Homo sapiens: one gene and its partner. The protein of the gene in region 1 purifies or fractionates together with the protein of each later gene. This does not show direct contact. Each region holds a gene or a part of one and is shown in the gene's direction. Other genes may lie near its edges.

Evidence for each region. Proteins that work in one complex are often made in the same cells at the same time.
Region 2: the proteins of HBS1L (region 1) and LIPA purify together in Homo sapiens (affinity purification with mass spectrometry; one large-scale study listed by BioGRID and IntAct). This does not show direct contact.

Annotation. Positions count from the first base shown.
Region 1 is NC_000006.12:134,999,049-135,002,910, reverse strand, and holds part of HBS1L (HBS1-like protein), read left to right. Parts: intron 1-68; coding exon 69-177; intron 178-3,862. UniProt on the Homo sapiens protein: GTPase component of the Pelota-HBS1L complex, a complex that recognizes stalled ribosomes and triggers the No-Go Decay (NGD) pathway.
Region 2 is NC_000010.11:89,220,440-89,224,301, reverse strand, and holds part of LIPA (lysosomal acid lipase/cholesteryl ester hydrolase isoform 1 precursor), read left to right. Parts: intron 1-471; coding exon 472-618; intron 619-1,719; coding exon 1,720-1,791; intron 1,792-3,862. UniProt on the Homo sapiens protein: Catalyzes the deacylation of cholesteryl ester core lipids of endocytosed low density lipoproteins to generate free fatty acids and cholesterol.

The DNA of each region.
Region 1 (3,862 bases):
CTATGTAATAGATTTCTTTATATTACTAAAGAAATTAATTGGCCTTTTATATTTTACTCCTTAACTAGGAAAACCAGTAGATTCCCAGACATCGCGAAGTGAATCTGAAATTGTGCCAAAAGTTGCTAAAATGACTGTATCTGGAAAGAAGCAAACTATGGGATTTGAAGTGCCTGGGTAAGACTTTGAGTACCTCCCTCATCCCCACCCCCACCCCCAAGTTTTTGAAATCACTGTTGCTTCTGTAAGAAAGAGACTGTTTCAATTTCGCATAATATATCATTAGCACTGAAGTATCATATATCCTCAGTATAACATAGTACAAAGAGACAAAATGAGAAATTAGGCTTGATTCTGGCCTTATCTTGTGTGTATTACTTACTCTACCTCACTGCCAGTTTTCTTACATAAATATTTTATAGCTACTTTAACATAAAAAACCCTATGATTTTGTGAAACCTAGCACTGTGAGATAGGGAATTCTTATACCACTAGGTGGCAGAGGTAACCAGATTTTGGAGTGAGTCCCCGAATCATGGAATCATTAATTAAATTTTTTAATAACTAAAATATTTTTAAACTCTTTTGGATTTTCATATTGAATAAATTGGACCATTGTAGCAAAGACGTAAATTGGACCATTGTAGCAAAGACATATGATATGAAACATATGTAGAATTTCAAATATGTAGTGAAAAATGGAAATAAACCATACCTTGGTAGCACTTGTTTGTTCTTATCAAAGTCTCTAGAATCCTTCCAGGAGTTTTTATAGACAAGGGAAGTGAGTTGCTTTAAAGCCATTAATTTTTAAACTCTAAAATTTTTCAGAATTTTCAATTGTTACTTATAAATTATATGTATTTTGTCTGCCAAAATGATAAACGCTGTTATCAAATATAAACAATAGGTTTTTACTATAAACAATAGATTTTTATATATATATACTTTTTTTCCTTTTTTTTCCTCTTTTCCCAAGTTATATTTTTTTAAAAATATAAACCCAGGAACCTTATTTATTTTTTTTTTCCTTACAATATTCTTTTGTCTAAACTAGTGAGGTATTATGAGTTTTGGTTGGGAAGAATGTTTATCACCTAGTTCAATTTTTGGATTTTATAGAAACAAGACTTTATTCACTAGATTTCAAAGTCAGTGAAGGAAAGGACTCCTTATCTAGGACATAGTAGGCATTCAGTGTACATTAATTGAATGATTGGATGAATGAAAAAGTTAATTTTTATCATGAGTAACTTTAGCCTGTTAAAATAATTTAGAATTCTGATTCAGTCTCAAAAAGCTTCGTGTATGCCTTTTTTCCTTCTGAATTGGGATTGAGTTGTCAGAATTATAATTGCCCTTTTTGTCCTTATTCTTGAGTACCATTTAATTCTATTATGGGATTTTTACATACAGAGAGAGAGAGAGGGGGGAAATAAATAGAATACACAATTTATTGTTCTAAGGATTTTATAATCTTAGTACAAAAGATTTTTCAGAAGTCTTAACATGCAAATGAACCCAAATTAATGTATTATATTAGAAGTAAATGCATAGGTATCTAAATGAATAATTATAAAGATAATGGGTAATAAATGTATCAATAAATAATGTGCATAATTTTTGAAAACTCTGTAAGTACAATGCAGGCCTTTCAGAATTTTATGACTATATTCTTTGTGAGGCCAGGGACTGTTAATGTTCATCACTGTATTCCTTTTACAGAATAGTTATTAAATATTTATTGCTCAGAATCCTTGGGGAAATATGTATTATTTTAAAAATAAACTTGCAAATAACATAAAGGTAAAAAATCCACCCATGAGGCAACATTTTGATGTGGCTCTATGGGAGAAGTCATTAGAATGTGAAAGGTCTGTAGTTATAGATCGAAATACTCAGAAATGCTTAATAGTGCTCAAGGCCAACCAAGTTGTACTATTACAGGATTTTTTGAGATTTATAATAGGGATAGCACTTAGCCTATTCTGGGTTAGTCTTAAGAAAGCATATAGAAACACAGTGAAACACTTTTGAGTCAAGATTTCAGCATCATAGGTTTCTACGTAGTGTGATTCTCAGTGGTGTCTTATTTTAAAAAGGATACGGCTGGGTGCAGTGGCTCATGCTTGTGATACCAACACATTGGAAGGCTGAGGTGGGAGGATTGCTTGAGCCTAGGAGTTTGAGGGAGCTATGATCCTGCCATTGCATTCCAGCCTGGTCAACAGAGTGAGATCCTGTCTCTATTTGGAAGAAAAAAAAAAAGGATAGTGCATAATGCATTGCTTGGAAGGAAATGAAACAGCAAACTTTCTTTTTCTTTAATAATATTAAAAATAGTAGATGCAAGTAAGTGCATGTAAGTAGAAATGGAACATTGCATATAGAAGAAATATTCTTTTAACCTCTTAAATCTCAGTTATTCGCTTCTAAGTATTTAACTCCAGAAGAAAGATTAAACCTCTAGATTCATGTATAGTTTACTTTTAGAAAGGTAGTTTAGAGAAAAAAAAGACTAGTCATTTTATAATATTAGGTAAGTGTACAGGGTGGGCATTGTGGCTCGTGACTGTAATTCCAGCACTTTAGGAGGCTGAGGTGGGAGCATCACTTGAGCCTAAGAGTTCAAGACCAGCTCGGGCAATATATTGAGATTCCCCCATCTCTACCAAAAAAAAAAAAAAATTAGCTGGGTATAGTGGTGCTTGCCTGTGGTCCCAGCTACTTAAGAGGCTGAGGTGGGATCACTTGAACCTGGGAGGCCAAGACTGCAGTGAGCCAATATTGTACCACTGCGCTCCAGCCTGGGCAACACAGCGAGAGCGAGACCATCTCAAAAAACAGAAAGAAAGAAAGAAAGAAAAAAAGCTTACAAAATGATACCAGAAAGCACCTGAAAAAAATCCAACCAACTTATTCTTTCATTCATACCAGTCAGTAATTAATTATAGGCCTGAAATCCAAATGGTCATTTTTAGACCTTATCTTAGATATTTTTCAAATCTTAAAACATTGACTTTTATTTCATAATATGCAGAAGTTTTTTTTACTAAGGGCAGACTTACCTAGGATACTTTTCTAATTACTTTGGTCATTTCCCACTAACACTGTAGAATTTTAGTGAATTAATTTACAGTTTACCTAAGATTTACTTAAAAGGGGCCGGGTACAGTAGCTCACCCCTGTAATATCAGCACTTTGGGAGGCCGAGGCAGGTGGATTACTTGGGGTCAGGAGTTCAATACCAGCCTGGCCAATGTGGTGAAACCCTGTCTCTACTAAAAATACAAAAATTATCCGGGTGTAGTGGCCAGCGCCTGTAATCCCAGCTACTCAGTAGGCTGAGGCAGGAGAATTGCTGGAACCTGGGAGGCGGAGGTTGCAGTGAGCTGAGATCGCACCATTGCACTCCAGCCTGGGTGATAGAGGGAGACTCCATCTCAAAAAAAAAAAAAAAAAGAAAAGAAAAAGATTTACTTAAATGAAAATGCTATCCTGAAAGCCAGAGGAAAACAAACCTTTCATGTTATTGAATTGCAGATGAAATGATCAAGTCAGCCCTGTTTTGTGAAGCCCTTCCTATTCTGGCAGCCCCTCTGAGGGCTGCCTGGATTGGTGGGGGAGCTGAGCTTCAAGCCCCTGCCCACTCTGTCCACCATAGCTGTCTGCTTTGATCTGTTTTCCATATTGAATTTAATGCAAGCTTGCCTCTGAAGAAAATGTTTTGCAGCTAAAAACAAAAAGATCTGGGGCCCGAGATTGTGATTTCTGCCAGGTCTGATTCAGACCAGAGCCTATGTCTAGTCACAGTAGATCACTTGTATTATAATTTGTGGGGCTTTAAAAATTCTTCTAAGTA
Region 2 (3,862 bases), on another chromosome or scaffold:
TTTAAAAAACAAAATAAAAAAGCAAGCGATGGGCTGGATTTGGCCTGCTGGCCAGTAGCATTGAATTAGATGGGCACACCTCTGGCAGACATTACTGATCAATCACAGCCTTGACTGTTTCTTAGAAGTAACCACCGATCCATCAGAGTCAGATGAAAATTACTTGGGGATGGCCCTGGGAGGGGTGATCATTAAGGCCCTTTCCCACTGTAGAAGTCCGCTGAAAACTTATTTGATTTTCTGCCTCCTTCTCTTCATTTGGAGAATTTAAATACACCTCTGTAGTGTGTGATTTTTGCTTTGGTAAACTTGTGCAAAAGCATCCTGATTTGATGTCCACTGGTTGCCATTCTCTCCTGAGGCCATTCGTGGAGACATTGGGTACTTGTCTCTGCTTCTGAGGTGAGTCACGGAGACTTATGCACCAGAGTGAAATGCTGAGATGTTCTTGGGTTTCTTTTTATTTTGTAGGACTTATTTGGAGACAAAGAATTTCTTCCCCAGAGTGCGTTTTTGAAGTGGCTGGGTACCCACGTTTGCACTCATGTCATACTGAAGGAGCTCTGTGGAAATCTCTGTTTTCTTCTGTGTGGATTTAATGAGAGAAATTTAAATATGGTATGCATGTTTATAGTAAGATTTGATTTTTTTTTTTATCTGTGAATGTGCTTATTTGTGTTGAATGATATGGGAGAGGTGGGAATGACCTCATCAGAACTCTAAAGAGTCTTTCATTTGAGAGGCACAAGCATGAACTTTGGCCAATGCCTAGAATACGGTACCACCTGCTGCCATCCTCAGGCTGACTGTGGTCACCTTCTTATGTTGTACCTAGATGGAGATTATTGAATGAGGAGATCTGTCACAAATTAAGCTGTAATATTTATAATTACTCTAGTGATTTGTTTCTTTTAGAAATCATTATAAGTATAAACATAAAGATGGGAACAATAGACAGTGGGGACTCCAAAAGGAAGGAGGGAGAGGGACAAGGGCTGAAGCCTGTTGAGTACTATAGCCAATATTGAGTACTGTGGTTATGGGATCAATAGAAGCCCGCATCTCAGCATCATGCAATCCACCCTTGTAACAAACCTGCACATGGACCCCCCGAATCTAAAATACACAAATTTTCAAAAATTACTATAAGTATTTAAATTTGGAACGGCCATTTACATACACATAAGTGTATGCTTGCAGTGTGTGTGTATTTATAAAAGTACATTTTATAAAATGTAAACCCATTTTATTTTATAAAATATAAACCCTTGGCCAATACTATGCCCGTGTTTCTAAATATGTTTGTTAGTTTGTCATGTGGCATTTTGAAAAAAAGGGTTAAAATCCTGGAATAAAGGCCCTAAGGAATTTCAGTGCCATTTTTCTTTTGTCTGATAATTAAAGCAAGGTGTGATTGTTATATGAAATTTGGGAAATTCAGGAAAGCATGAAGAACAAAATGAAAATGCCCTGTAAACGAAACCCACACAGTCCCGTGCTTACCATGTTGTTGCACCTCCTTCATATGGACTTTGTATGTGGTTGTATGTATTTTTATAGGGCAGATTTTTAGTCAAATAATTTTTTTCTACCTCTCATCTCACATACTTGAGATTATGGCTCTAGTTTTTAGTGCTTTGAAGGGCAAAATACAATGTTTATTATCAATGCCACCTTAATGCTGTTTTCATTCTTCATTTCAATGTATTTATTTTGCAGTCTAGAGTGGATGTATATACAACACATTCTCCTGCTGGAACTTCTGTGCAAAACATGTTACACTGGAGCCAGGTAGGCATTCCAGGAGTGCATTTGGGGTTCATGTAAAATCAACATCAGAAAGGTCTGGGCATGCAAACCCTTTCCAAATAGAAAGACAACCTGCTTACAAATCTGATCTGGTTTTCTTCCCCAGAGTCCTGGGTTTTTGTCATCGTGCTTGTGTTGCTTTTGATACCTGTGGTGGGGCACACTGTGTTATACGTGGGTTCACAAACAGCTACTGGGGTTGACATTTTTCTTTTCCCTCCTCTCCCTTCCTCAAGTCTCAGGTTAATATATTCTCTCCCTTTCCTTCTCCCCCAGCTTTCTTTTCCTCCTCCTGTTTCCTCCCCTCCATCTGCTTCTCATTGAGTCCTAGATTTTTTTTATTTCTGTGTTGCTTCATAAAGAGTGATTTTAAGTCCGTTTTGGAGATAGAAACCGCTGTTTCAACACTAACCCCTGATCACAATATGCTTGGAATAGCAGTGAATAAACTGGAGCTAAACCAATGATAGATGTGAATGGGGGCCCCTGACTTTTGAAATACAGTTTTGATTATTTTATCATGTAAATAAGTCATGTTCATTCTAGAAAATTTAGAAACTACATCTAGAAAAAAATTATCTTAAAATGAAAATAAAATCATTCTATAACCCTAGACAGAGAGGAAATGCATATCCATAGATATTGAATGTCTCTGCATTCTATTCTATACCTCTTTTCAAAAAGATGCTGTTAAAGACATGGATAGAAATAGTAGATGTAGAAATAGATTGATTTTTCTCCTGCTTACTGTTTTACAGCTTGCTTTTCTTTTTTCACCTGACAATATGTCAGGGACTTCTTTCTACCTCAGGACATAATTTTGTGCCATTTATTTTTCAGCTAACTTCATTTTTAATATGAAACAACTCACCATTTAAGCCCTAAACCAAGACACTGTAGGTGTCTTGAATAGTAATTTCCAAACACCTGGCAGTCACTGCTTGCATCAGAATCACCAAATTGCTTTAAAAAGTACACTATTTAATAAATCATTGCATTAAAAAAGTAATGAGAGTTGGAATTATAGTGGAATTCTTGGATTGGCTACCATCCAGGCTTATAAAACAAATACTCCTGTGTCCCAATCATTTGGACTAGAGAATCTGTACTTTTATTTTTTCGTTTTATTTTATTTTTTTGAGATGGACTCTCACTCTGTTGCCAGGCTGGAGTGTAGTGGTGCGATCTTGGCTCACTGCAACCTCCGCCTCCCAGCTTCATGTGATTCTCCTGCCTCAGCCTCCCGAGTCGTTTTATTATTTTAAAAAAAAATTTTTTATTGAGGTATAAGTGACATAGAATATTTAAAGTATACAATTTGATATATTTCAGTGTTTGTATACACCTGTGAAACCATCACCATAATCGACACAGCAAATATATCATCATCCTAAAAGGTCCCTGCTGCCCCTTTGTGATACCTCCCCCCATCCCTCCCCTCAATCCCACTGATCTGCTTCCTGTCATTGTAGCTTAGTTTGCATTTTCTAGAGCTTGCATGAGAACAGTCATGCAGTTTATACTTGTTTTTGTCTGGCTTCTTCCACTCAGAATACTTGTTTTGAAATTTTCCTATGTTGTGTATGTCAGTAGTTCATTCCTTTTTATTTCTGAGGATCTGCATTTTTAAAAAATCTGCCTGGTAGATTCTTTTGCTCCACCAGGTTTGGGAGCAGACCTGTTCGGGACATCCTGATACTTTCATCTCCTTCTTCAGTTGCCCCAGGAACTCTAACAGTGCTATAGTTCTCCTTTCCCTGGGGCTCGTCTCTAAGGAACTAGGAAGAGCCTGGCCTGAGGCTCCTGGTCCTTTATAGTAACTAGAAGGCTGAGAGTTAAATGTCAGTTCCTCAGGGGCAGAGTTTGTTGTGGCCTAAAAGAGGGGCATCTGGAATGCAAATAGTTCATGACGTGCTGAACAGCACATGCTTACCACTTAAGGAATGCCCCCAAACCTTCAAAAATCCTCAAATTCACAAAGATTGAGGATTTTCGTTCTTGGTTCAGGTCTCTGCTTTTCTCCTTGGTCACATTTATGCTTATAGTCACTTGT